Homo sapiens: one gene and its partners. The protein of the gene in region 1 interacts with the protein of each later gene in a biochemical or structural test. Each region holds a gene or a part of one and is shown on either strand. Other genes may lie near its edges.

Region 1 (7,029 bases):
GAACTTCCAACACTATGTTGAATAGGAGTGGTGAGAGAGGGCATCCCTGTCTTGTGCCCGTTTTCAAAGGGAATGCTTCCAGTTTTTGCCCATTCAGTATGATATTGGCTGTGGGTTTGTCATAGATAGCTCTTATTATTTTGAAATAGGTCCCATCAATACCTAATTTATTGAGAGTTTTTAGCATGAAGGGTTGTTGAATTTTGTCAAAGGCTTTTTCTGCATCTATTGAGATAATCATGTGGTTTTTGTCTTTGGCTCTGTTTATATGCTGGATTACATTTATTGATTTGCGTATATTGAACCAGCCTTGCATCCCAGGGATGAAGCCCACTTGATCATGGTGGATAAGCTTTTTGATATGCTGCTGGATTCGTTTTGCCAGTATTTTATTGAGGATTTTTGCATCAATGTTCATCAAGGATATTGGTCTAAAATTCTCTTTTTTTGTTGTGTCTCTGCCCGGCTTTGGTATCAGAATGATGCTGGCCTCATAAAATGAGTTAGGGAGGATTCCCTCTTTTTCTATTGATTGGAATAGTTTCAGAAGGAATGGTACCAGTTCCTCCTTGTACCTCTGGTAGAATTCCGCTGTGAATCCATCTGGTCCTGGACTCTTTTTGGTTGGTAAGCTATTGATTATTGCCACAATTTCAGATCCTGTTATTGGTCTATTCAGAGATTCAGCTTCTTCCTGGTTTAGTCTTGGGAGAGTGTATGTGTTGAGGAATTTATCCATTTCTTCTAGATTTTCTAGTTTATTTGTGTAGAGGTGTTTGTAGTATTCTCTGATGGTAGTTTGTATTTCTGTGGGATCAGTGGTGATATCCCCTTTATCATTTTTTATTGCGTCTATTTGATTCTTCTCTCTTTTCTTCTTTATTAGTCTTGCTAGCGGTCTATCTATTTTGTTGATCTTTTCAAAAAACCAGCTCCCGGATTCATTGATTTTTTGAAGGGTTTTTTTGTGTCTCTATTTCCTTCAGTTCTGCTCTGATCTTAGTTATTTCCTGCCTTCTGCTAGCTTTTGAATGTGTTTGCTCTTGCTTCTCTAGTTCTTTTAATTGTGATATTAGGGTGTCAATTTTAGATCTTTCCTGCTTTCTCTTGAGGGCATTTAATGCTATAAATTTCCCTCTACACACTGCTTTGAATGTGTCCCAGAGATTCTGGTATGTTGTGTGTTTGTTCTCATTGGTTTCAAAGAACATCTTTATTTCTGCCTTCATTTCGTTATGTACCCAGTAGTCATTCAGGAGCAGGTTGTTCAGTGTCCATGTAGTTGAGTGATTTTGAGTGTTTCTTAATCCTGAGTTCTAGTTTGATTGCACTGTGGTCTGAGAGATAGTTTGTTATAATTTCTGTTCTTTTACATTTGCTGAGGAGAGCTTTACTTCCAACTATGTGGTCAATTTTGGAATAGGTGTGGTGTGGTGCTGAAAAAAATGTATATTCTGTTGATTTGGGGTGGAGAGTTCTGTAGATGTCTATTAGGTCCACTTGGTGCAGAGCTGAGTTCAATTCCTGGGTATCCTTGTTGACTTTCTGTCTCGTTGATCTGTCTAATGTTGACAGTGGGGTGTTAAAGTCTCCCATTATTAATGTGTGGGAGTCTAAGTCTCTTTGTAGGTCACTCAGGACTTGCTTTATGAATCTGGGTGCTCCTGTATTGGGTGCATATATATTTAGGATAGTTAGCTCTTCTTGTTGAATTGATCCCTTTACCATTATGTAATGGCCTTCTTTGTCTCTTTTGATCTTTGTTGGTTTAAAGTCCGTTTTATCAGAGACTAGGATTGCAACCCCTGCCTCTTTTTGTTTTCCATTTGCTTGGTAGATCTTCCTCCATCCTTTTATTTTGAGCCTATGTGTGTCTCTGCACGTGAGATGGGTTTCCTGAATACAGCACACTGATGGGTCTTGACTCTTTATCCAATTTGCCAGTCTGTGTCTTTTAATTGGAGCATTTAGTCCATTTACATTTAAAGTTAATATTGTCATGTGTGAATTTGATCCTGTCATTATGATGTTAGCTGGTGATTTTGCTCGTTAGTTGATGCAGTTTCTTCCTAGTCTCAATGGTCTTTACATTTTGGCATGATTTTGCAGCTGCTGGTACCGGTTGTTCCTTTCCATGTTTAGTGCTTCCTTCCGGAGCTCTTTTAGGGCAGGCCTGGTGGTGACAAAATCTCTCACCATTTGCTTGTCTGTGAAGTATTTTATTTCTCCTTCACTTATGAAGCTTAGTTTGGCTGGATATGAAATTCTGGGTTGAAAATTCTTTTCTTTAAGAATGTTGAATATTGGCCCCCACTCTCTTCTGGCTTGTAGGGTTTCTGCCGAGAGATCCGTTGTTAGTCTGATGGGCTTCCCTTTGAGGGTAACCCGACCTTTCTCTCTGGCTGCCCTTAACATTTTTTCCTTCATTTCAACTTTGGTGAATCTGACAATTATGTGTCTTGGAGTTGCTCTTCTCGAGGAGTATCTTTGTGGCGTTCTCTATATTTCCTGAATCTGAACGTTGGCCTGCCTTGCTAGATTGGGGAAGTTCTCCTGGATAATATCCTGCAGAGTGTTTTCCAACTTGGTTCCAATCTCCCCATCACTTTCAGGTACACCAATCAGACGTAGATTTGGTCTTTTCACATAATCCCATATTTCTTGGAGGCTTTGCTCATTTCTTTTTATTCTTTTTTCTCTAAACTTCCCTTCTCGCTTCATTTCATTCATTTCATCTTCCATTGCTGATACCCTTTCTTCCAGTTGATCGCATCGGCTCCTGAGGCTTCTGCATTCTTCACGTAGTTCTCGAGCCTTGGTTTTCAGCTCCATCAGCTCCTTTAAGCACTTCTCTGTATTGGTTATTCTAGTTATACATTCTTCTAAATTTTTTTCAAAGTTTTCAACTTCTTTGCCTTTGGTTTGAATGTCCTCCTGTAGCTCAGAGTAATTTGATCGTCTGAAGCCTTCTTCTCTCAGCTCATCAAAGTCATTCTCCATCCAGCTTTGTTCCGTTGCTGGTGAGGAACTGCGTTCCTTTGGAAGAGGAGAGGCGCTCTGCGTTTTAGAGTTTCCAGCTTTTCTGTTCTGTTTTTCCCCCATCTTTGTGGTTTTATCTATTTTTGGTCTTTGATGATGGTGATGTACAGATGGGTTTTCGGTGTGGATGTCCTTTCTGTTTGTTAGTTTTCCTTCTAACAGACAGGACCCTCAGCTGCAGGTCTGTTGGAATACCCTGCCGTGTGAGGTGTCAGTGTGCCCCTGCTGGGGGGTGCCTCCCAGTTAGGCTGCTCGGGGGTCAGGGGTCAGGGACCCACTTGAGGAGGCAGTCTGCCGGTTCTCAGATCTCCAGCTGCGTGCTGGGAGAACCACTGCTCTCTTCAAAGCTGTCAGACAGGGACACTTAAGTCTGCAGAGGTTACTGCTGTCTTTTTGTTTGTCTGTGCCCTGCCCCCAGAGGTGGAGCCTACAGAGGCAGGCAGGCCTCCTTGAGCTGTGGTGGGCTCCACCCAGTTCGAGTTCCTGGCTGCTTTGTTTACCTAATCAAGCCTGGGCAATGGCGGGCGCCCCTCCCCCAGCCTCGCTGCTGCCTTGCAGTTTGATCTCAGACTGCTGTGCTAGCAATCAGCGAGACTCCGTGGGCGTAGGACCCTCCGAGCCAGGTGTGGGATATAATCTCTTGGTTCGCCGTTTTTTAAGCCAGTCTGAAAAGCGCAATATTCGGGTGGGAGTGACCCGATTTTCCAGGTGCGTCCGTTACCCCTTTCTTTGACTCGGAAAGGGAACTCCTTGACCCCTTGGGCTTCCCAAGTGTGGCAATGCCTTGCCCTGCTTCGGTTTGCACACGGTGCGCGCACCCACTGGCCTGCGCCCACTGTCTGGCACTCCCTAGTGAGATGAACCCGGTACCTCAGATGGAAATGCAGAAATCACCCGTCTTGTGCGTCGCTCACGCTGGGAGCTGTACACCGGAGCTGTTCCTATTCGGCCATCTTGGCTCCTCCCCTCCTTCAATAAATATTTGTTGAGCATGAGCACCAGTGCCAAATACTGTGCCTAATCACAGTGGTTGCTGTCAAGGAGTATATACACTAGCTGGCGAGACTAGTGTGCAAAAGACAGGGTTAAAGGGCCAGCAGAGAGGCGAAGGTTGCATATGTATTGGAGTATTGCGTTGGAAGATGCTTTCTTTTTAAGCTTGTAAGTAAAGACAGGAATAACTTAAGAGTACCTTATTGCATGACCGTGTAGCAAAATATTTAAAGTCTGGACTTCTACATTGAAACAGATTTGTGTTTAAATTCTAGCTCCAGGCTGGGCGCGGTGGCTCATGCCTGTAATCCCAGCACTTTGGGAGGCCAAGACGGGCGGATCACAAGGTCAGGAAATTGAGACCATCCTGGCTAACACGATGAAACCCCGTCTTGACTAAAAATACAAAAAATTAGCCGGGCATGGTGGCGGATGCCTGTAGTCCCAGCTATTCGGGAGGCTGAGGCAGGAGAATGGCGTGAACCCGGGAGGCAGAGCTTGCAGTGAGCCGAGATCGTGCCCCTGCACTCCAGCCTGGGTGACAGAGCCAGACTCCATCTCAAAAAAAAAAAAAAAAAAATTCCAGTTCTATCAGTTACTAGCTTGGCTATTTATTCAACCAGACATCGGCTTTCTCATCTGTAAAATGGGGATAATAATAGTATGACTCCCATAGGGTTGCTGTAGGAATTAAATGAGATATTGCAAATAAAACACTTTAACACAGCTCCTAGCACGTCAATTTTTTTTTTTTTTTAAGCATTAGGTAGATTGACTTGGGAAGTGGGAGGGACTTGGTGAAAGAAAGGGCCTAAGAAAAGTCAATTTAAGGATTGTTAAGTAGTAATGAAATCCAGCTAAGGTTATATGAAATCACTGTCACCTTAGATTTATGACTTTCTCATACTTTGTATGGGTTGGAAAATAGTATTGAATTACAGATTTGGCAGTGTTAATAGGGGAAAGGGCAAGTAAGGAATACGGAAGATGAGTTAAGGGTGCTAATATAGAGAACTTCATTGAAATACCTGACTGCTACCTAGATTAGAATAGGAGGTTTGAAGCAAAGCCAGGAGATAGCTCTTGTGCAAGTAGAATTGGGAATGACATGGAGATCTTGAAAAGGTGAAGAACAAATTGGTTAGCAGTGAGAGGAATTATTTAGGTAGAAGAAAAAGTTGTCACAGAATGGAATTTTATAGTTTTGAGATTAATAGAGCAGTTCACTTCTAGAGAGATGTAAAAGGGGAAAGAAGATAGGCTTCTGTTTTTATAATTTATTTCTCATTAAACTGGTACTTTGTAGAGATGTACTTTTTAAATTTTTTTGAAAGTCTGAAAATAGACAAATTTTATAATGATTCAGATACCAAAAGAAGGAACTACCATATTCCATAAATATAAATTAACTGTGGAGTTTTATGTGATGCGATATTAAAGGAAAAACATTGGCTTTTTAAAAAAAGGTCAGGCTTGATTCTTAGGTAGTTTTTTTTAATTGCTATAAACATAGACATTTATAAAATAATAATGGTAGTTAACTATGTACCACATATTGTGCCAGATGCTTTACATGTATTATTCAATCCTTACAACTTTGAGGAAGGTACCGTTATGTATATTTTACAGATGAGGAAACTGAGGTGTATGGGGAAGGATGAGGACACATAGCTAGTGAGTGGGCCTAGCCAACACTGGAACCTAGGTCTGTTTTGACTTGGCAACTCAAACCCTACAATACTACAATACCACGTCTTAAGTATGGGGTGTTGAAAAGAACACTGGTCTAGGATGCCTGGTTCTGCAGCTTATTCTTTCTTGTGATCTTAGGCCACTCATTCTTTTCTGAGTCTTTTTTCTCCCTATGTAAAAATGAGAGGCAGTAATACTCGCCTTGTTTAATTGACAGGATCACTGTATCAAATGAGACAAATTACTATGAAAGTGCTTACAAAAGTAAAATGATATAATGGAAATACAAGAGTATTATTATATATGGTGGGGGGAAATTTTTACTGTCTTCTACAAATCTCTTGCAACAAAATAAAGTAAAAGCGGAGTTCTAGGACATGTAAATATATAGACTTAAAAATTAAACAGAGACTTCCTCTGGAAGTTTTCCAAACAACAAACTTACAAATGCAAACAAGTTACTTTGTTCTTTTTTGAACTTTATTTAGTGCCTAAATTGTTTGTAGGGTTGGTTATTAGTGACTATATGAGTATAGTTAAAGGAGTTTAAAATCTAATGGATTTCTTTTTCTTTTTTTAATGAAGATGATTTGTCATTAATTCGGAAGAACAGAATGGCTCTCTTTCAACAATTGACATGTGTGCTTCCTATCCTGGATAATCTTTTAAAGGCCAATGTAATTAATAAACAGGAACATGATATTATTAAACAAAAAACACAGATACCTTTACAAGCGAGAGAACTGATTGATACCATTTTGGTTAAAGGAAATGCTGCGGCCAACATCTTCAAAAACTGTCTAAAAGAAATTGACTCTACATTGTATAAGAACTTATTTGGTGAGTTTGTTGGGAAAATTATTTTAGAAATTCTTAGGACTGGCCAGATGCGGTGGCTCAGTTTTGTATTTAGTAGAGTAATGGTTTTTATGTTTTCTTTCCTCAGTGGATAAGAATATGAAGTATATTCCAACAGAAGATGTTTCAGGTAAAACAAAGATTTAAAACCAACATGAACTATTACCCTTTTTTTTTAATGAAGTGGAAACAATTTCACTAAAGTTATTTTTTGTTATTAGGTCTGTCACTGGAAGAACAATTGAGGAGGTTGCAAGAAGAACGAACTTGTAAAGTGTGTATGGACAAAGAAGTTTCTGTTGTATTTATTCCTTGTGGTCATCTGGTAGTATGCCAGGAATGTGCCCCTTCTCTAAGAAAATGCCCTATTTGCAGGGGTATAATCAAGGGTACTGTTCGTACATTTCTCTCTTAAAGAAAAATAGTCTATATTTTAACCTGCATAAA
Region 2 (7,029 bases), on another chromosome or scaffold:
ATGTTTATGATAACTTTGTAACCTCCAATATAATAAATCTTATGTTTTTTAAACTCTTCTTGATTTTTTTCTAATTGCGTTCTCAGGATAACCTTCTAAAGTACTTAGCTTTCAGCTAATAATAAAAAAATTAATAACAACTAATATTTATTGCATGTTTACATGTACCAGATGCTGTCTTTAGTCCTTTACATTTATTAACTTAATTAGTCTCTCCAAAATCTCAGAAGGTAGGTGTTCATTTTGTAACTGAAAAGTTAAATGACTTGCCCAAAAGTAAGTCAGCTTTTATGTAACATCCAAGATTCAGACCTGTGTAGCATGGTTTTGGAGCTCCTAACCACTCTGCTCTACCTCTGGTTAGTGCTGTATGGCGTATGGTTTTAGGGTAGAATACAGGGGATTGCTTGATTGAGAGGGAGAGGCATCAAAAATGACTGGGTTTCTAGCCTCTAAAAGGATAACATATGATATCAAACAGAAAAAGGCAACCTAAGTAGAGGGAAAAGTTTTCTGAAGGAACAAGTGAGTTGACTTTTAGAAATTTTGAGTTTAAGTACAGCAGTCAATTGGAAAATAAGGTTTTGAGCTCAGTAGAGATAGAGGAATTAAGATGTAGATCTCTGAGACACATATCTGTGAGACTTTAATTACCTAAAGATTGGGTAATTGAAGCATTGAGGAGTGAAAAAAAAAAACAAGAATTTACCTGAGTTCACATAAAAGGGGCAGAAGAGAAGAGGCCCAAGATCCCATCTTGAAGAATTTAAGAAACAGGTAGAGAGAAGAGGCCTGCCAAGGAGATGAGGATCAGCACCACATCAGTGAGGCAGAAGGAAAAGGGAAGTATAAACAAAGTATTTTTCAGGCATTGCATGCCTTAGCGTTTTATTTTTAGCATGCTTCTGAATAGCTAATGGGATAGATTTAAACATGTGAGGCTTAGTCTTAATAGTTTGAGAATCACCTTTGCAATATGTGGTCAGCTAAATGCAAAGGTTTAGATATTGATAAGACAATGTTCAAAACTGACTACAGGCTGGGCACAGTGGTTCATGCCTATAATCCCAGCACTTTGGGAGGCCGAGGCGGGTGGATCACCTAAGGTCAGGAGTTCGAGACCAGCCTGGCCAACATGGTGAAACCCTGTCTCCACTAAAAATGCAAAAATTAGCTGGGCGTGATGGTGCGCCCCTGTAATCCCAGCTACTCGGGAGACTGAGATGGGGGGATTGCTTGAACCCAGGAGGTGGAGGCTGCAGTGAGCCAAGATCGTACCACTGCACTCCAGCCTGGGAAACAGTGAGACCCCATCTCAACAACAACAACAACAAAAAACTGACTACAATTTAATTTTCTTGCCAGGTGACACTATCAAAATTGACCAAGATTTACTATTATCTTCACCTATAAGACTGAATTAAAGAAAAAAAATAAAAATAAAAAGATTTACTATTTACTGCTTTGTGAGAGACCATTCACATACTATTTATTACAGTATATTATAATTGTTGTAGTTATTGTTAATCTCATAAATTAAACTTTGTCACAGATATGCATGTATAGTATTTATATATAGTGTTTGGTACTATTCATGGTTTCAGGCATCCACTGGGGGTCCTGGAATGTACCCCCTGCAGATAAGTGGGGAGACTACTGTATCGTATACTCTATTTTTATTATCTTACAAGACTGGGGTCAAGATGAGGTATTATAGGTGTCATTTTGTCTTCTTCCTAGATCAGATTTTTTTTAAAAAAATTCTAATTTTTGTGGGTACATAGAAGGCATATATATTGATGGGTACATGAGATGTTTTGATATAGACATGCAATGTGTAATAAGAATATCATAGAGAATGGGGTATCCATCCCCTCAAGCATTTATCCTCTGTGTTACAAACAAACCAATTATACTCATTTACTTTAAAATGTACAATTAGTTATTGACTATAGTCACCCTGTTGTGCTATCAAATAGTAGGTCTTATTCATTACTTATAACTTTTTTTTTTTTTTTTGGTACCCATTAGCCATCTTCCCTGCCTCCCACTACCATTTTCAGCCTCTGGTAACCATCCTCCTACTCTCTACGTCCGTGAGTTCAGTTGTTTTGGTTTTCAGATCCCACAAAAAAGTGAGAACGTTCAATGTTTTTCTGTGCCTGACTTCTTTCACTTAACATAATGGTCTACAGTCCCATCCATGTTATTGCAAATGACAGGATGTCATTCATTTTTGTGGCCAAATAGTACTCCATTGTGTATGTGTACCACATTTTCTTTATCCATTCATCTGTTGATGGACACTTAGGTTGCTTCCATATCTGAGATATTGTAAATAGTGCTGCAATGAACATGGGAGTGCAAATATCTCTTCAATATAGTGATATCCTTTCTTTTGGGTATATACCCAGCAGTGGGATTGCTGGATCATATGGTAGCTCTATTTTTGTATTTTTTGAGGAACTGCCAAACTGTTCTCATTAATGGTTGTAGTAATTTACATTCCTACCAACAATATCTAAAAAAAAAAATACAAAAAATTAGCCGGGAGTGGTGGCGGGCACCTGTAGCCCCAGCTACTTGGGAGGCTGAGACAGGAGAATGACGTGAACCCAGGAGGTGGAGCTTGCAGTGAGCTGAGATCGCGACAATACATGTCGCGACAATATATGAGGGTTTCCTTTTCTCCACATCCTTGCCAGCATTTGTTATTGACTGTCTTTTGTATATAAGCCATTTTAACTGGGGTGAGATGATATCCCATTGTAGTTTTGATTTGCATTTCTCTGATGATAATGATGCGTACCTTTTCATATGCTTGTTTGCCATTTGTATGCCTTTTGGGAAATGTCTATTCAAATCTTTTGCCAATTTTTTAATCGGATTATTAGATTTTTTCCTTTAGTGTTGTTTGAGCTTCTTTTCTATTCTGGTTATTAATCTCTTGTCAGATGGGTTAGATCTGCTTTTTCATTATTTATATATTTTTTTGAGATAGGGTCTGTCTCTGTCACCCAGGCTGGTTTGCAGTGGTGTGATCACAACTCACTGCTACCTCGCCTCCCAGGCTCAAGCCATCCTCCCACTCATCCTCCCAAGTAGCTGGGGCTACAAGCGTGTGCCACCAGACCCAGCTAATTTTTGTATTTTATACACAGGGTTTGGCCGTGTTGCCCAGGCTGGTCTTGAACTCCTGAGCTCAAGTGATCCACCCACCTCAGCCTCCCAAAGTGTTGGGATTACAGGCATGAGCCACCATGCTTAAAAAAAAAAAAAAAAAGAAAAGAAAAGACGGGGTGCGGTGGCTCACGCCTGTAATCCCAGCACTTTGGGAGGCTGAGGTGGGCGGATCACGAGGTCAGGAGATCGAGACCATCCTGGCTAACATGGTGAAACCCCATCTCTACTAAAAAAAAAAAAAAAAAAGGCAAAAAATTAGCCAGGCATGGTGGCGGGTGCCTGTAGCCCCAGCTACTTGGGGGGCTGAGACAGGAGAATGACATGAACCCAGGAAGCAGAGCTTGCAGTGAGCTGGGACAGCGCCACTGCACTCCAGCCTGGGCGACAGAGCGAGACTCAGTTTCAAAATAAATAAATAAATAAGAATGTATTTAACTTTAAAAAACAGAGACAGGGTCTCACTAGGTTGCCCAGGCTGGTCTCAAACTCCTGGGCTCAAGTGATCCTCCTGCCTCAGCCTCCTAAGGTGCTGGGATTAGAGACATGAGCCACTGCACCCAGCCAACCACCGTGCTTTTAAAGAAGGACTCTAGGAGGGTAGTGATCTTATCCAGTGTGTTCCTCACTTTATTTCTAACCTCTAGAATATTATAGTGTAGGCTTGGTAAATACTGATGAGTTAAAATACAAAGCAGGCCAGAGAAGTGGAATACATTGTTGATCCTTTGAGAATTAGTGGTTTTGATAATGAATGTGAATTAGTCATTATAAAGATAAACTTTTACTTGTATGGTAAGCATTCTGAAATATCTTTGAACATAGAAGCCACTTGTATGTAGGAGAGAAAATTAATGAAGTTGTATCCCTTCTTTTTTTTATAAATTACAAGGATTATATTTAGAGACTCCAAGAACTTTAAAAGGTACATGAGCATTGGCTGGATTTCTTTATGAATAAGGGGAGCAAAATTGTCTGTGGAAGTTAAGTACCTGTATTAAGCAAATTAACTCTTTTGTTGGAAATAGAGGCACTATTTAAATCTTGGGAAACACCAACTTGCCTGATAAAAAGTAAAGACCCTTTTGCCTTTCCTCAGGGAACATATTAAAAACTATTTAAAAATGTTGATGTCTGTTAGTAGCCAACCCTGGAAAGTCTCTGGTGAAATGTCATAGGCTTCACTTGTCTCATCTTCCTATTTCAGAAACAATTCTGAGCTCTTCCAAGATAGGAAAGCACACTGCGAGAGTCCTATAGATGGCAGTGTTTGCTTTACTCTGAAAATGTTTTTACAGGTCATCATCAAGAATATGGGCTGGAATCTCGTTGGTCCTGTTGTTCGATGCCTTTTGTGTAAAGATAAAGAGGATAGTAAAAGAAAAGTTTATTTTTTGATCTTTGATTTATTGGTAAAGGTAAGTTAACAAAACAAGGTTCTCTTTATCATAACACACAGCAGTATTTTATAATTCCCTTTAATGTTTATTGTTTGGTAAGAAAGCTTTTGGTTCATGAAAGTACATGCAGAAAGGAACTCGTTGGAGAAAAGACCCAGTCTTATTGATTGGATAGGCAATTCCATTTCAGGATTTCCCAAATTTTCTGGATAAAAGAATTGTCTAACCTCATATTAACCTCATATCGGACCCATTGATTCAGCATCTCCAGGGAGAGACCTGGGAAGCTATATCTTAACAAGTAGCCTTATCGTATAGATGTGGAATACAAGCTTTAGAGAGGTAGTTCAAGGTCACATTTATCTTTTGGCAACATTGGAACTAGATTAAAATCTCAGTCCTCTTTCCTTTGTGGTATGTTCCCTAAAAGAAAATGGAAGGCCTAGAATACAAGTGATTAAAATTGAAGTAGGAATAGGGTAGAATACAGATCAGTTGTGACTAACAACCTTAGAAAGCGACCCTGGGTAAAAGGCTAGTAGAGTTTACAGTCAATATTTGATGGCCAAGAAAGATAAATTCTGAGAAAAAGTATATTATAAGAAACTGTTTAGTGATCAGTGCAAATATACCCAAATATATATTGGAAGGAGAGCTCCATCTGTATGAGTTATTGACTATGGGAGCTGGGAGCTTTTAAAAAACCAGTCAAGTGAGATGATAAGATATGGCCAGTCAGAAAGCAATGCAAAGTTTTACCTGTTCAAAAAATACAAAAGAGATTCCAGACTAGTCTAAATAGGCTTGCAGCATGGGATTGAAAGGTCCCACCTGCTGGAGCCCCTGAGAATCTGTTAAGGCAATTTCAGAGTGGACAGGTGAAGCTCAAAGGAAACCTGAGCCTAAAGATCCATTGACTTCTTGCTTTTTAGTTTTATAGTTACTTGACCATCACAGATTCTGTGTTTTGCTCATGCATATTTTTTCAACAATTGTATAAATAATTTTAATGTTAAGCAAAAACATAATTGTATAATATTTTGTCGATACATGCCTTCTTAAAAATAGTAATAATGTGGCTTTAAATACAACTTGTATTAAACAGGTTCAATTGTGAATATTTTTATAGTTATGCAATCCAAAGGAATTATTGTTGGGTTTGCTTGAACTGATTGAAGAGCCCTCTGGAAAACAGATATCCCAAAGTATTCTTCTTTTGCTTCAGCCATTACAAACAGGTAATGAGAATTTTGATATCAGAGTACTTCTTGTTGTATCTCTAAATGCCTTGATGGTTACCTCAAAATGTCAATACTACACCAAAGTAAAGTTTACAGCTAATTAGTGAGTACTCTGCTTAAACCAATAATAGCAATGCCAATGTGAATACTGCTGCTCATAGAAAGATTATAGTATCTGGCCAGAGTGGGTACCCAGTAAATATTCTGTTGAATGTCATACTATTTTTCATGTGCTATATTGAAAACTATACCTTTTTGCCTAACCTTCCTATCTGCTGCTTAAATCTAGAATTTTCTCTCTAAACATGTTTCAAGGGTTACCTCTGTGGTGTCTGCAGTACTAAATCTGATAGCATTATGGTAGTCTGGAAGAGTATCAGGCAAGGCATTGCTCAGCCTCTGCTTTGGGAGGTTGGATTGGGCATAGCAAAGCTACTACTGAAGAATGAAACGAGGAGATATGGGATGATAAGGCTCCATGGCTGAGTGCAGTAACAGTATTGGTAGGTAATGGGTCTTAGCAACCAAGGCAGACAGTATCCATAGGAAGAGGTTATTTTTCATTTTAGGAAATTCGTTTATCTCACAATCTGATAGAGGGACCTAGAATCAGAAATTAAATTTGTTTTAAATATGAATGCCTGCCAGCTTCATACTACCTGTAATATTCAGTCTTCTAGGGAAAAAAAATCTAATAATACCACCTCCTATTTGTGTAGTGCTTTATAGTTTACAATACACTTATATTTTGTGCTTATAACAACCCAAAAACATGGAAAGAACATGTTTCTGTCTTAAGTACATAGCCTGTTACACATAGTCTGTTATAAACATAACCTAAACAGCATTTCATGGCAAGATGCTGTATTATTTTATGCACAACTAAGAAGAAAAAAACACTGCCAATTAGACTGTGATGTGTCATCTTGATTCAAGAGTTGTTAAAATGTGGGAGGAGGAAGTGTCTTATAATTCCACATTTGCCGAATTTCTTGTCCCATGTTTAGCATACTTGATGAGCGACAACTTGATCTCTGTTTTAGTGATTCAGAAACTTCATAACAAGGCATATTCAATTGGATTAGCATTGTCTACCCTTTGGAATCAGCTATCTCTTCTTCCTGTTCCATACTCAAAAGAACAAATACAAATGGATGACTATGGCCTTTGTCAGTGTTGCAAGGCCTTAATAGAGTTCACTAAGCCTT
Region 3 (7,029 bases), on another chromosome or scaffold:
GGGGAGACCCTGGGCCCGGGCAGGACCTCTTCCAGTCTTCTGTAGTTGAGGTGGGTCGGTATTAGCAGAGCCTAGAGACAGCTATTCGTCTCCCAGGTCTCACTATGGGCACTCCTCATTTTGGGGTCGTAGCTGGAGGCTAGTTGGGGCCCTGAGCCATCCTGGCTTAAAGGCCTGCCTTGTTAGCGCCCTGAGTGGGCCTGGCGCTCAGCATTGCGTTCACACAAGTGCACTCACAGACCCTGGTGACAGGATCGGAAAGCCAGTTCATTCATCTAATTGAGGACAGAACCCAAACTGCCTGGGGGAGTGAGCACCAGGACTGTCGGGAAGGCTGTGTTGGAAACACAGTGCTGAGAGTGCCTGGGCAGCCCAGAGACAAAGCCACAGCAGTGAGCAGAAGGACTGGGTGTTTTGTGGTCTCAGACTGTGGAGGGCCATTTACAGATTTTGGGGTGATTTTTACAGTTTTCTTCTATAAAATAGTTGTATTTTGTTTCATTACAAGTTCTTGGGGTTTCTCACTGTAGACACAACTGCAGAGGATTCAGGCCTCCTGAAGGACTTCAGGCTCCAAAGAGTGATGAGCCCAGTCCCAGTTGGGGCTGCGATAATGGGGCCCCCAAGTTGTAGGGAGTGGTGGGGAGTGGAGTGCTGGCTAGTAGTGTCTCCAGCCTTGCCTGGGCCCTGTGGCTGCGCAGGCTCCTCTAGGCTCCTCTGCCTGGACCCTCTTTCCCAGTCCCTGCTGCGGTCCCCAGAGCCGTTCTGTAGTTCTGTCCGCATTAGAGGAGGCTCTGGCTTCCTGCGCTCTCAGAGCCCAGATGAGGCCCTGCTGCATTTGGTTAAACTGTGTGTGCGTGTGCATTTGTTTTGTTGCATAATTGAATTAATGTGTGTTTATTAGAATGCTAGCTTGTGGCCAGATGTGGTGGCTCAGGCCTGTAATCCCAGCACTTTGGGAGGCTGAGGTGGGCGGATCATGAGGTCAGGAGATCAAGATCATCCTGGCTAACACGGTGAAACCCTGTCTCTACTAAAAATACAAAAAATTAGCTGGGCGTGGCACCTGTAGTCCCAGCTACTCGGGAGGCTGGAGCAGGAGAATGGTGTGAACCCGGGAGTCAGAGCTTGCAGTGAGCTGAGATTGCGCCACCGCACTCCAGCCTGGGTGACAGAGTGAGACCCTGTCTCAAAAAAAAAAAAAGAATGCTAGTTGCTAGCTTGCTCACTGCCCTTTCTTGATGAGGACTGTTTTTTATTCTGAGATTAGGTCATATATATATATATGTGTGTGTGTATATATATAATATTTATGTAAATGTTCTTTTGTGAAATTATGAAGGTAATAGATGGTAGTTGTTTTTTATCACTGACAAAATGAGAAGTGGCCAACTCTGAGCTGGTTGCAGTGGCTCATGCCTATAACCCCAGCACTTTGGGAGGCTGAGGTGGCTGGATCACTTGAGGTCAGGAATTTGAGACCAGCCTGACCAACATGGTAAGACCTCATCTCTACTAAAAATACAAAAATTAGGCGGGTGTGGGCACCTGTAATCCCACCTACTCGGGAGGCTGAGGCAGGAGAATCGCTTGAACCTGGGAGGCGGAGGTTGCAGTGAGCCATCGCGCCACTGCACTCCAGCCCGGGTGACAGAGTTGGCAACTCTGGTCTGAAATGCTGTGATTTTAGTGTTGCGAATGTCTGGGACCTCTTGGCCTGTCTGTCAAAGCTGTGGGATTCTAGAGTCTGTCTTGGGGCTCGGAGGCCCCCAGTGCTCACTGGTAAAGGCCTCTCGGTGAGGGGATCAGTGATGGAGTGCGGTAGTCAGAGCAAGGTGGTGAGCGGAGTGATGGCGGCAAGACCAGCCTTGGTCCCTGGCCCCTGTCACATCCCATTCCTGGACTTCGTCGTGGTTCTCTCTCTCCTGCTGAGCCCCCGGCGTGGCAGGGAGGGCCTGGAGAACATGGCAGGCCGGGGGAATGTGTGCTGTCTGGTTTCTCACACATCGTGTTGATTTAACGTAAGGGTAAACTTTCAGGGTTCCTTTCTTTCCGTTGTAGTCAGCTCCAGGCAGAGGTGGCACACGGATCAGGTGTGTCTGGGACTCCTGGTCCCTGCCGGTCGTGCCCCCTGCAGGCGGGGTGCCCACCCTTCTCGAGAGGCTCAGGCTTGACTGCAGACACAGAAGTGAGACCAGGAAGGCTGCTGAGTTTGAAGGGCAGTCTTAGGAACGCCCAAACAGCAGCAGCTGAGAATCGAGACACAGTAACATAGGAGTAAAGGAAGTGTGGGCTTGGGCCACCAGAGAACACAGGTGGGAGGACAGAGAAACTTCCCTCCCCTGTCCCAGGCTTTCCTGGCCTTGGCACGCTTGGCATTTGGGCTGGGTAATTCTTTTTTCTCAGGACTTTCTTGTGCATTGTGGGCTGTTTAACAACTTCCCTGGCCTCTACCCCCTGGACGCCAGCCAGCAGCAGACACATGTGACCACCCCCCTGTGACAATCAGGTGTCTCCAGACAGGGCCAGATGTTCCCAGGGGCAAAACTGGACCCCACTGGGAACCACCACTCTACTCTGGTGCTTCTCAACCTTTCATGTGCATGTGAACGCCCTGAGAATGTGTCTAAAAAGAAGTTTCTTTTTTTCTTTTGGAGATAGGGTCTTACTCTGTCATCCAGGCTGGAGTGCAGTGGTACAATGTTGGCTCACTGCAGCCTCCGTCTCCTGGGTTCAAGTGATTCTCCCTCCTCAGCCTCCCGAGTAGCTGAGATTACAGGTGCGTTACCACCACACTCGGCTAATTTTCATAGTTTTGAGTAGAGACAGGGTTTCACCATGTTGGCCAGGCTGGTCTCAAACTCCTGACCTCAAGTTATGTACCCACCTTGGCCCCCCGAACTGCTGGGATTACAGACGTGAGCCACCACGCCTGGCCTAGATTCTTTTGTTTTTTTTTTTTTGAGACGAACTCTTGCCCTGTCATCCAGGCTGGAATGCAGTGGTGTGATCTTGGCTCACTGCAACCTTCGCCTCCTGGGTTCAAGCGATTCTCCTGCCTCAGCCTGAGTAGCTGGGGTTACAGGTGCGTACCACCACGACCAGCTAATTTTTGTATTTTTAGTAGAGACGGGGTTTCCCCATGTTGGCCAGGCTGGTCTTGAACTCCTGGCCTCAAGTGATCCACCCGCCTTGGCCTCTCAAAGTACTGGGATTACAGGTGTGAGCCACCACACCCAACCTAAAGAGAAGATTCTGACTGAGTAGGTCTGGGGTGTAGTCTGCGACTCTGCATTTGTTAAGTGCCGGGAGATGCTGCACTGCAAGGCTCTGGGCCACGTGAAGAGTCAGTGACTCTGCCTTTTCCTCCAGCTGAGCAGGTCGTACCCAAAGGCCGGCTCTGGAACTATTTGGCAAGTCTTCTGGGGCTCTTTGAGGCTCAGCTAACCTGTAATCACTAGCCCTGTGTGGTAGGCAGACTTCTGAGAGGGCCCCCAGGAGCTCAGCTCACCTGTAATCACTAGTCCTGTGTGGCAGGCAGACTTCTGAGAGGGCCCCCAGAGGCTCAGCTCACCTGTAATCACTAACCCTGTGTGGTAGGCAGGCTTCTGAGAGGGCCCCCAGATTCCAGGCTCCTTGTGCACACTCACCTTCCTACTGCCTCCCAGGTTTCAGTCCAATACTGAGTAGGTTTCATTGCTGTGGGATTGTGCAGATGTAATTAAGGTCTAAGATCTGTTGACCTTGAGATAGGGAGATTACGTGGGTGGGCTTGATCCACTCCCTGGTGGGCTTGATGTACTCACCTGAGCCCTTTAAGTCTGAGTCCAGACGTCCGAGGCCGAGCAGTCAAGAGACATAGCAGGAGAGGGATTTGATGAGGGAGATTGGACGTGGTTGACTTTGGAGATGGAGAGGGCCGTGTGGCAAGGGATGTGGGCAGCACCTAGGAGTTGATGGCTGTACTGGGCTGGCAGCCAGTCGGGAAGGAGACCTCATTCTCCATCTCTGAGCTCCACGTGAGAACATGTCCTGGCCGACTGCATTGATTTTTAGTCTGGGAGACCCTGGTCAGAGAATGCAGCCACCTACGTCTGGACTTCCGACCCACGGAGCCGTTGGCTGGTAAATAAATGGGTGGCATTCGAGGCCGTTGCCTTCACTAATATGCTTAATGTCATCTCAAAAGACGTCTTCCTCTTCCCAGGCTTTTTCACCTTCCCGTTTCCTGCCCCTCCCCTGTTCCCCAGCCTGGAGCCCAGTGGCTGGGCCACATCAAGACTTAGCACGGGACCTGCGGGAATGGGTCCTCAGGGAGTGTGTCTGCTGCACTGAGTCACTCACCTGGTTTGATGCCGTCACTGAGGATTCTGTTTTTCTTTGGGTGCGACCTGCTCAGCTGGAGGAAAGAGCAGAGCAGATCCGTTCGAAGTCCCACCTCATCCAGGTGGAGCGGGAGAAAATGCAGATGGAGCTGAGTCACAAGAGGGCTCGAGTGGAGCTGGAGAGAGCAGCCAGCACCAGTGCCAGGAACTACGAGGTGGGTTCAGGCGGGGCGAGGGTCGGCCCAGACAGCCCCAGGAAGCAAGGGGGCTGTGCACGGTACCTGCCAGGTTATAAGAAATCACATCCTAGTCCCTGGGAGCAAGGGGGCTGTGCATGGTACCTGCCAGGTCTTAAGAAATCAGATCCCAGTCCCTGGGAGCAAGGGGGCTGTGCACGGTACCTGCCAGGCCGTAGGAAATGAGAACCCAGCTGGCTGGAAGCCTGACACGCCCTGTGTCATGGTTGCCAGGACATTCCTTCTGAGGCCACTCATGCTGTGGGGCAGGTATCAGTTATGCTTGATGTCCTAGAGGAGGGTGGCATGAAATGGGAACACTTGCTGTGTCTGTTCATTGAGGCTGCGGTGCTGGCACAGATTCTTTTGCTGGGTCTCCTGGTTTCCTCTTCCCTCTGGAAGAATTGGAATGCAGGTCTGGCAGAAATGCCAAGTGGTGTAGGAGTGACAGGCTTAGGAGGTCATGGGGTGGATCAGGGTCTCGGGTCCATGCTGGGTCTTGGGGTTGGAGGGCCCTAGCAAAGGGTGCCGGTCTCAATGGCGGCTCTGTGTTGCTCCTGGCTCCCCAGGGCAGCAGGGAAAACACCCTGTCCTTGGGGAGGGAATTAGGTTTCCACTGAGTGCGCGGATCCCCTCTGCTCTGATTAACAGCACTTTGCCAGGGTTTCAGTCAGTGCTGATCAGTTGTGGAAATGCTGCCAAGGTTCAGGCAGAGTATTGGGCGGAAAGTCTCCCTGGCCTCCGTGCCCTCTCTTGGCGGGTGGATGTCCAGCCCCGCCCTGACATCATGCGGTGTATTCACACACTCTCCTGGGCCCTAGAAAAATAGCTCACGTCTTCCGGGGTGTGATGCTGGTTGGATTGCTTGCCCCTGGCCTGCAGATCCTGACTGCGGTGTGCGTTGTGTGGGCTCAGTGAGACTGAGGCACCGCTGGGGTGGGGGCCACTGCCTCAGGGTTGGCTCCGTTGCTGCTTTGAGAGCTGTTTTCCCTGAGAGGTGGGGCGTTTGCTCATGGCCTGGGTGGGTCCTAGGAGGGACAGTACTGGAGGAATTGGTGGGAAGGGGAGGGAGAGTCCACAGGAGTCTCCCTAACTACTGAGATTCCCTTGTTAGGGGTGGAGAGGAGCCACCAGGTCATTGGTCTGGAGGCAGCATGCTGATGGTATGGCTGTGGCTGTCAGGCAGGAGGGACAGTGTGCAGCTGTTGGAGTTCCTCTAGGCCGAGAGTCCCTGAGGGCAGGGCCCACCCGACTCTGCCCAGGATCTCCATTGTGTGGCACAGCTTATGGCATTTTATGGGTGCTCACAAATGTTGGATTGAGGGAGGGGTCATTGTAGGGTCTCCGGGAACCCTGTCTTGGGGAAATCCAAGGATGCAGGTGACTGGGCTTACACCTGGGGCTCCCTGCTGAGCTCCAGCCACCTTCTAACAGGACTGTCCTTCCTTGCCCGCAGACACAGCTGCATGGGACCCCAGGAACAGTCAGAACCAGTAGTTTTCCAATTGTTCCTTGGAGTTCCACCTGGAAATACCTATTAGGGGCGAGACTTAAGTGTCTGAAGTCCAAAGACCTGCTGGCTGCCCTGTCTGCGCTGGGACTGGCAGTTCCAGGCCCGGTGCCGCATCTGGCTGTGATGGTGCTGAGCGGAGCCCCGTGCCAACCCCAGTTCTTGTCCTGCATCACAGAAGGGTCTCTTGGTTGTTGTGAGGCAGCCCTTGCAGCTCACAAGGGCTGGAGTCCCTCCGAGGTGCGCGGGTCAGCCTCTCTCAGAAGGCGGCCACCTCTGTCACAGCTCTCCTGGGTTTTGGGCTGGAGTACCCTGGATGAGGACAGCACAAGCTCGTACTCCACCCGGGGCTCCGGGAGTGCTTGGTGCTTCCCGAGGAAGGCAGGGTGAGAGGGTCCCGGAGTGCCGGGCTCCACCAGGACTCACCGCCTTCACCTCCTGGGACGCCGGTACCTGGCAGTGAACTCTGGAGGGCCTGCGGGTCATTAGAGTCAGGAGGTCTGAGCGTGGTGCTTGGTCATGTCCCATCCCAACCAGTGAGAGCCACGCGGCCTCCCTAAGGCCAGTCGTGGGGGGTGGGTCTGGAGGTTTGTGGTTTGTGTGAGAGGGGGTGCATGTGTGGCAGATTTGAGCCCAGTGTAAACTGCTTCTGCCCACAGCCTCCTGTCCACGCTGCCTGTCTCTGCCCCTGTTGTCTGCTCGCTGGGGGAGTGCCAGCTCCTTTCAGTGCCGGACAGAGCGTAATTAGACAGGATTTGCTGGTGCTATGAAAGCTCAGCTTCTCCCCAAGGTCAATGCTGAATTTTAGATTTCCCATGCCCCCTCTCCCTGCAGAGGCAACTGCTGAGCAGACGGTGTGATAAATGTGTGTGTGATCTGTGCCAAGTGCCCTTCCTGGGAGCCCTGACCTCGCACAGTGCTCACCGTCATGGTGCCACAGCGGGGGTGCCAACGCTGG
Region 4 (6,167 bases), on another chromosome or scaffold:
GCATGGTGGCATGTGCCTGTAGTCGCAGCTGCTTGGGAGGCTGAAGTAGGAGCATCACCTAAGTCCCAGAGGTTGAGGCTGCAGTGAGCCAAGATTACACCCACTGCACTCCATCCTAGGTGACAGAGTGAGACCCTGTCTCAAAAAAAAAAAAGAAAATATTGTAAGGGCCTGGTGCAGTGGCTCTCATCTGTAATCCCAGCACTTTGGGAGGTGAAAGTGGGAGTATTCCTTGAGTCCAGGAGTTAACGACCAGCCTGGGCAACATGGTAAGACCCTGTCTCTACAAAACAGCCAAGCATGGTGGTGTGTGCCTGTAGCCCCAGCTACTCAGGAGGCTGAGGTGGGAGGATCACTTGACCCTGGGAAGTTAAGGCTGCGTGAGCTGTGATCACGCTCCTGCACCCAGCCTAGGTGATAGAGTGAAACCTTCTCACAAGAAAAAAGAAAATATTTTAAGATGTTTGTGTTCTCCAAACATTAAGTTAGTGTTAGTCATATTGTGTTCCAGAGGTTGGTTTATGGTTGGATACCAAAACATTTTTTCAGTAGAGAGAATATTATAAGGAAATATAAATCAAAGAGAGACAGCATGTAAAGGTCTATGACAGAAAGACAAGTTTTCTATTTACTAGAAGGCAGGTATTGATGCCACAGCCTTTGGATGTTAATGATTAAGCATAGGTTTATTTTGCAGACTTATCAGTTACCAGTTTAGTGCGTGAGTTCTCTATGCTGATATTCTGCATCTTCTTTCAACAGGTTTTTTAGTCTTTATTAATTTGTATTGCATAAAATATGGGGCACTAGCACTACAAGAAATATTTGATGGTATACAACCAAAGTAAGTTTGTTTTTATTATTTTTTAAAGGAAGAAAATGTTTTGACTTTTTTTTTAGTACAAATCAGTATCTCTGTCTTATAGATGATGATGTGGTTCTTGGTATGGAGATAGTGTCTATGGTTTTCAAAATATTCTTAGGTATTGGGAGTAAAGAAAAAGTAATCCTGGCCCAGCATGGTGGCTCACGCCCGTAATCCCACACTCTGAGAGGCTGAGGAGGGCGGATTTAGCTCAGGAGTTTGAGACCAGCCTGGGCAATATAGTGAGACTCCATCTCAAAAAAAGAAAAAACACCCTGGAATCATTGTTCTAATCCTCTAGATTAGAGGACCATCTACTCTACACACTGGCATTCTCCACAGCCAGTGTTCTATATTATGTTAAATGGTCAGTGTTGTCTCCAGGAGCCTGCCTTATTAAAACTAACAGCAGAAAACACCACATGTTCTCACTCATAGGTGGGAATTGAACAATGAGAACACTTGGACACAGGGCGGGGAACATCACACTCTGGGGCCTGTCGTGGGATGGGGGGCAGGGGAAGGGAGGGCAGAGGGAGGGATAGCATTAGCAGAAATACCTAATGTAAATGACGAGTTAATGGGTGCAGTAAACCAACTTGGCACATGTATACATATGTAACAAACCTGCACGTTGTGCACATGTACCCTAGAACTTAAAGTATAATTAAAAAAAAAAACCAGAATTTTCCTTCCCCCTTTTTTAAAAAATCGTGCTAATCCATATCGTTCCAATTTTAGTATATGTGCTGCTAATGCAAACACAGCAGAATTTTTCAAATGAGAAATACTTAGGACCAATAAATTAACTTTGTTTTTGACTTATCTGGTATATATGCAAAGAATGTATTTAGGTGGCATTTCCCATTAGTAGGGAATAAAACAATTATAACGATAAGATAAAGAACAACTCTTAGGGAAAATTTCTTCGGGGACAGTTAGATCCCTGTACCTCAGTTATGTCTCAAAAATTCTACATTGACTAAAAAATGAATTACTCTGGAAAGGAGACCAGAAAACATGGCTTCCGGCAGTAGGGGATTTTGAGGAAATCTCATGCACTGCTAGTGGGAGCCTGAATTAGCCTGATCTTTCTAGAGAGCAAAATGTATGCACTTTTTATCCAGAGCATTAGAATTGCCATACCCTTTGAGCCATATTTCCACTTCAAAGAATTGGTTCTATTAACGCATAAACTGAGGATTTTGCATCATTTAGAATTACGGAAAACTTCACTTCTAGCATGTTTGCAACAACATAGAATGATTGGCCGAATTATTTTAAATAGCCATTAGCATTTATGTACCTGCAGGTATGTAAGCAAAGACAGTTGGGAAGCTTATAACCCAAAAATGTTAAAACTAGTTGTTTCTGGGTGGTGGGATGATTCCTTTTTTCCCTCCTTGCTCCTCTCTCTTTTTTTTTTTTTTTTCTTTTTTTTTTTTGAGACTGGCCAGGTGTAATTTTTAAAGAAAAAAGCAGAGAGGGCCAGGAATGGTGGCTCACGCCTGTAATCCTAGCACTTTGGGAGGCTGAGGCAGGTGGATCACCTGAGGTCAGGAGTTCGAGATCAGCCTGGCCAACACAATGAAACCCCATCTCTACTAAAAATACAAAAATTTGCCGGGCGTGGTGGTGGGCACCTGTAATCCCACCTACTCAGGGGGCTGAGGCAGGCAAATTGCTTGAACCCAGGAGGTGGAGGTTGTAGTGAGCTGAGATCACACCGTTCCACTCCAGCCTGGGCAACAAGAGCGAAACTCCGTCTCAAAAAAAAAAAGAAAAGAAAAAGATTATGGCATTTGGCTACAGGGTAGAGGTGTGATGGGGTTTTTTTATGTTTTGACTTTCAGTCTCTTCAGATGATCAAAAACAGCAGTCTTGTTATTTAGTAATTTATCATATTCATAAGAAGTAACTAACATCTAAGCATTTTACTATTTCATTATAGTGATAATCTAATATTAAGTTGATTTATTTTGCTTTAATAGAATGTTTGGAATGGTTTTGGAAAAAATTATTATTCCTGAAATTCAGAAGGTATCTGGAAATGTAGAGAAAAAGATCTGTGCGGTTGGCATAACCAAATTACTAACAGAATGTCCCCCAATGATGGACACTGAGTATACCAAACTGTGGTAAGTACTTCATTTTAATATTTTTGTAAGTTACAGCTTCCTTCCCATATGACTGCAAAATTAACAAAGCTTATTCTCTTGGGGGCCAAGAGAATCTTGGTCTGATCTCAGCTTCTCCACAATCAGATCCAAGACATGATTTCTGGATCCTTCTGGGCTTAGAATGATCTTGTTTCCTGCTTCTTTTTCAGGGGGATTCATGGACCCCTTTAAGAGTCTGATCTAGGTGATCTCTAAGACAATTTTATGACAGAAGCCCAACTAAACTGACTTATCTTTAAGGGGAAGAACTGAATAAGCCAAGAAAAGAACCATCTTAATTTCAAAGGTCCCCTTTTATTCTTGAGACTATGAGTCTGTAATTTTGTGTCTCTGAGCAATTGCTGGTTTTAAGTCTTCCGAGTATTTTCTTGACCTTTTTATCTCTTGCTTTCTTCCAATCCAGGACTCCATTATTACAGTCTTTGATTGGTCTTTTTGAGTTACCCGAAGATGATACCATTCCTGATGAGGAACATTTTATTGACATAGAAGATACACCAGGATATCAGACTGCCTTCTCACAGTTGGCATTTGCTGGGAAAAAAGAGCATGATCCTGTAGGTCAAATGGTGAATAACCCCAAAATTCACCTGGCACAGTCACTTCACAAGTTGTCTACCGCCTGTCCAGGAAGGGTAAGTGTGTTGTCAAAGAACTCTGTGATAAATGGAGACTTTAATGGGAGGGCAAAAGGATAGTAGTAGTTCTGGTGTCTGTTTTCATTGGTGGGCGTAATAAAACTAAATCTCATTGAGTTACAGCAAGCTTATTTTCTTTAATTAAAAACACTGAGCCCTTTTTTTCTTGTATTATGTACTACAAATATATTTTAAGTGAATGGATTTAGGAGTGAGAACAAAGGAGGAAAAATCCCTTCAATAGAAATGTAATAAGGCTGTATAGTTGCATTTTGTCAGCACTTTATAATAAGAGTTTATTTCCCAGATCGAAGTAATCCATCTATTATTAAAATGTGGTAGCATTTTTTTATTTTTATTTTTATTTATTTATTTTTTTAGACAGGGTCTCACTCTTATCCAGGCTGGAATGCAGTAGTACGATTATGGCTCACTGCAGCCTCAACCTCCCAGGTTCAAGTGATCCTACTGCCTGTCAGCCTTCCAAGTAGCTAGGACCCACTATGCCCAGCTAATTTTTTATTTTTTTGTGGAGACAGGGTCTCCCTATGTTGTTCAGGTTGGTCTCAACCTCCTGGGCTCAAGCCATCCTCCTCCCTCAGCCTCCCAAAGTGCTGGGATTACAAGTGTGAGCCTGGACACAGTTATTTTTTTTTAATTGCAGCATACTCAGAAATTAATAGATCATGGCATAAACCTAATAATGACTGTATAGTTGCATTTTGTCAGCACTTATTATAGAGTTCTTACATGTTACCTGATAAAATATATATTTTTCAAGCCAGACACAGTGGTTTATGCCTGTAGTTCTAGTGCTTTGGGAGGCCAGGGCTGCAGTGAGCTATTACAGTGCCACTGCAATCCAGCCTGGGCAACAGAGCGAGGTCCCGTTTCTTAAAAAACATATATGTGTGTGGCGTGTGTATATATATGTATATATATTTTTTCATTGTATTATTACGGAGACTTTCAAACATATATAGAAAGAGCATAATGAAGCCTGCATGTGCCCAGCTTCAATAATTACCAATATCTTGCCAGTTTTGTTTCGTTTCTCCTTTTATTCTCTGTATTGAGCAAGTCTTAGACATCATACGTTTCACGCGTAAGTACCTTATTCTACATCATTAACCAGTAAGGACTTTTTAATTAACCACAATACCACTATCACACCTAATAATAGTAATTCCTTATGGATCTTTTCTTTAGACCTATTTTTGAAGGCATAAAAGCAGTTGAGTTTCTGGAGAATTTTTGGATGGTGATTAATGACTTGACTGGCTGCTCTTCCCAGAGCTGTGGCAGCTCTCCCGTAGAAGATGGGGTTTGTATTGGCGCACCAAGATCTCCAACAGCCAGTGTGTGTTTCCCATCTCTTGTAGGTTCCATCAATGGTGAGCACCAGCCTGAATGCAGAAGCGCTCCAGTATCTCCAAGGGTACCTTCAGGCAGCCAGTGTGACACTGCTTTAAACTGCATTTTTCTAATGGGCTAAACCCAGATGGTTTCCTAGGAAATCACAGGCTTCTGAGCACAGCTGCATTAAAACAAAGGAAGTTCTCCTTTTGAACTTGTCACGAATTCCATCTTGTAAAGGATATTAAATGTTGCTTTAACCTGAACCTTGAGCAAATTAGTTGGTTTGTGTGATCATACAGTTATGTGGGTGGCTTCTAGTTTGCAACTTCAAGGGACAAGTATTAATAGTTCAGTGTATGGCGTTGGTTTGTGTTGAGCGTTTGCACGGTTTGGATAATCTTAAATTTTGACGGACACTGTGGAGACTTTCTGTTACTAAATCCTTTTGTTTTGAAGCTGTTGCTATTTGTATTTCTCTTGTCCTTTATATTTTTTGTCTGTTTATTTACGCTTTTATTGGAAATGTGAATAAGTAAAGAATTACTTGTGTTACTTGCCAAGCAGTGCACATTTCATAGTTTCAAATCTGTAATCAGCAATAAAAATCCTAAAATATGTACCTAAGAACATCTTAAGGGCAGGTTTTCAGTGCTCTCTCATGCTTTTATAAAAATGAAGAATTTCTTTAAATTTCTTCCTTTTCCTTTCCTGGACTCTGTAAAATCCTAATTTCTAAATCATGTAAACTCAGATTATTTAGTCTTTTTTTTTATATGGGGGAAGGGGACATTAATATAGATTTGGGGCTTATTTACTAGAATTTTCTGTAGCAGTTCCTAGGTGGCAGTGTGAGTTTTGGGTAGGTGGCTCCTCTGGGAGAAATGCTCTGCCTCGCTTAATGGGATGGCGGTCGAGAGTACTTGAGACTGTGGATGTTTTGATCTCTTTCATCTCTGCTGTTCCCTGGAGAGTGGAGGTTACTTGGAACTTTTCAAACCCTGACACCTTAGAACCGTGAAGTCCAGTCCAGTGGTGGATCCGGCCGGATGCCTGGTGAGCTTGGTTGCACTGGCTCCCTCCCTTGGCCTGGCCCATGGAATTGTACAGCATTCGTTTCTGAGGAAT

The links.
Region 2: the proteins of BIRC2 (region 1) and GLMN form a complex in vitro, tested with the Homo sapiens proteins (one study listed by BioGRID).
Region 3: of the proteins of BIRC2 (region 1) and MAD1L1, one has a biochemical effect on the other in vitro, tested with the Homo sapiens proteins (one study listed by BioGRID).
Region 4: of the proteins of BIRC2 (region 1) and CSE1L, one has a biochemical effect on the other in vitro, tested with the Homo sapiens proteins (one study listed by BioGRID).

The regions. Positions count from the first base shown.
Region 1 is NC_000011.10:102,371,187-102,378,215, forward strand, and holds part of BIRC2 (baculoviral IAP repeat-containing protein 2), read left to right. Parts: intron 1-6,309; coding exon 6,310-6,564; intron 6,565-6,670; coding exon 6,671-6,712; intron 6,713-6,803; coding exon 6,804-6,997; 3' UTR 6,998-7,029. UniProt on the Homo sapiens protein: Multi-functional protein which regulates not only caspases and apoptosis, but also modulates inflammatory signaling and immunity, mitogenic kinase signaling, and cell proliferation, as well as cell invasion and metastasis.
Region 2 is NC_000001.11:92,288,987-92,296,015, reverse strand, and holds part of GLMN (glomulin), read left to right. Parts: intron 1-4,478; coding exon 4,479-4,598; intron 4,599-5,685; exon of another isoform or gene 5,686-5,709; coding exon 5,710-5,818; intron 5,819-6,864; coding exon 6,865-7,029.
Region 3 is NC_000007.14:2,222,921-2,229,949, reverse strand, and holds part of MAD1L1 (mitotic spindle assembly checkpoint protein MAD1), read left to right. Parts: intron 1-4,399; coding exon 4,400-4,540; intron 4,541-7,029. UniProt on the Homo sapiens protein: Component of the spindle-assembly checkpoint that prevents the onset of anaphase until all chromosomes are properly aligned at the metaphase plate.
Region 4 is NC_000020.11:49,091,284-49,097,450, forward strand, and holds the end of CSE1L (exportin-2), read left to right. Parts: intron 1-762; coding exon 763-844; intron 845-2,856; coding exon 2,857-3,003; intron 3,004-3,448; coding exon 3,449-3,680; intron 3,681-4,892; coding exon of another isoform or gene 4,893-4,904; exon of another isoform or gene 4,905-5,065; coding exon 5,066-5,155; 3' UTR 5,156-5,666; downstream 5,667-6,167. UniProt on the Homo sapiens protein: Export receptor for importin-alpha. Mediates importin-alpha re-export from the nucleus to the cytoplasm after import substrates (cargos) have been released into the nucleoplasm.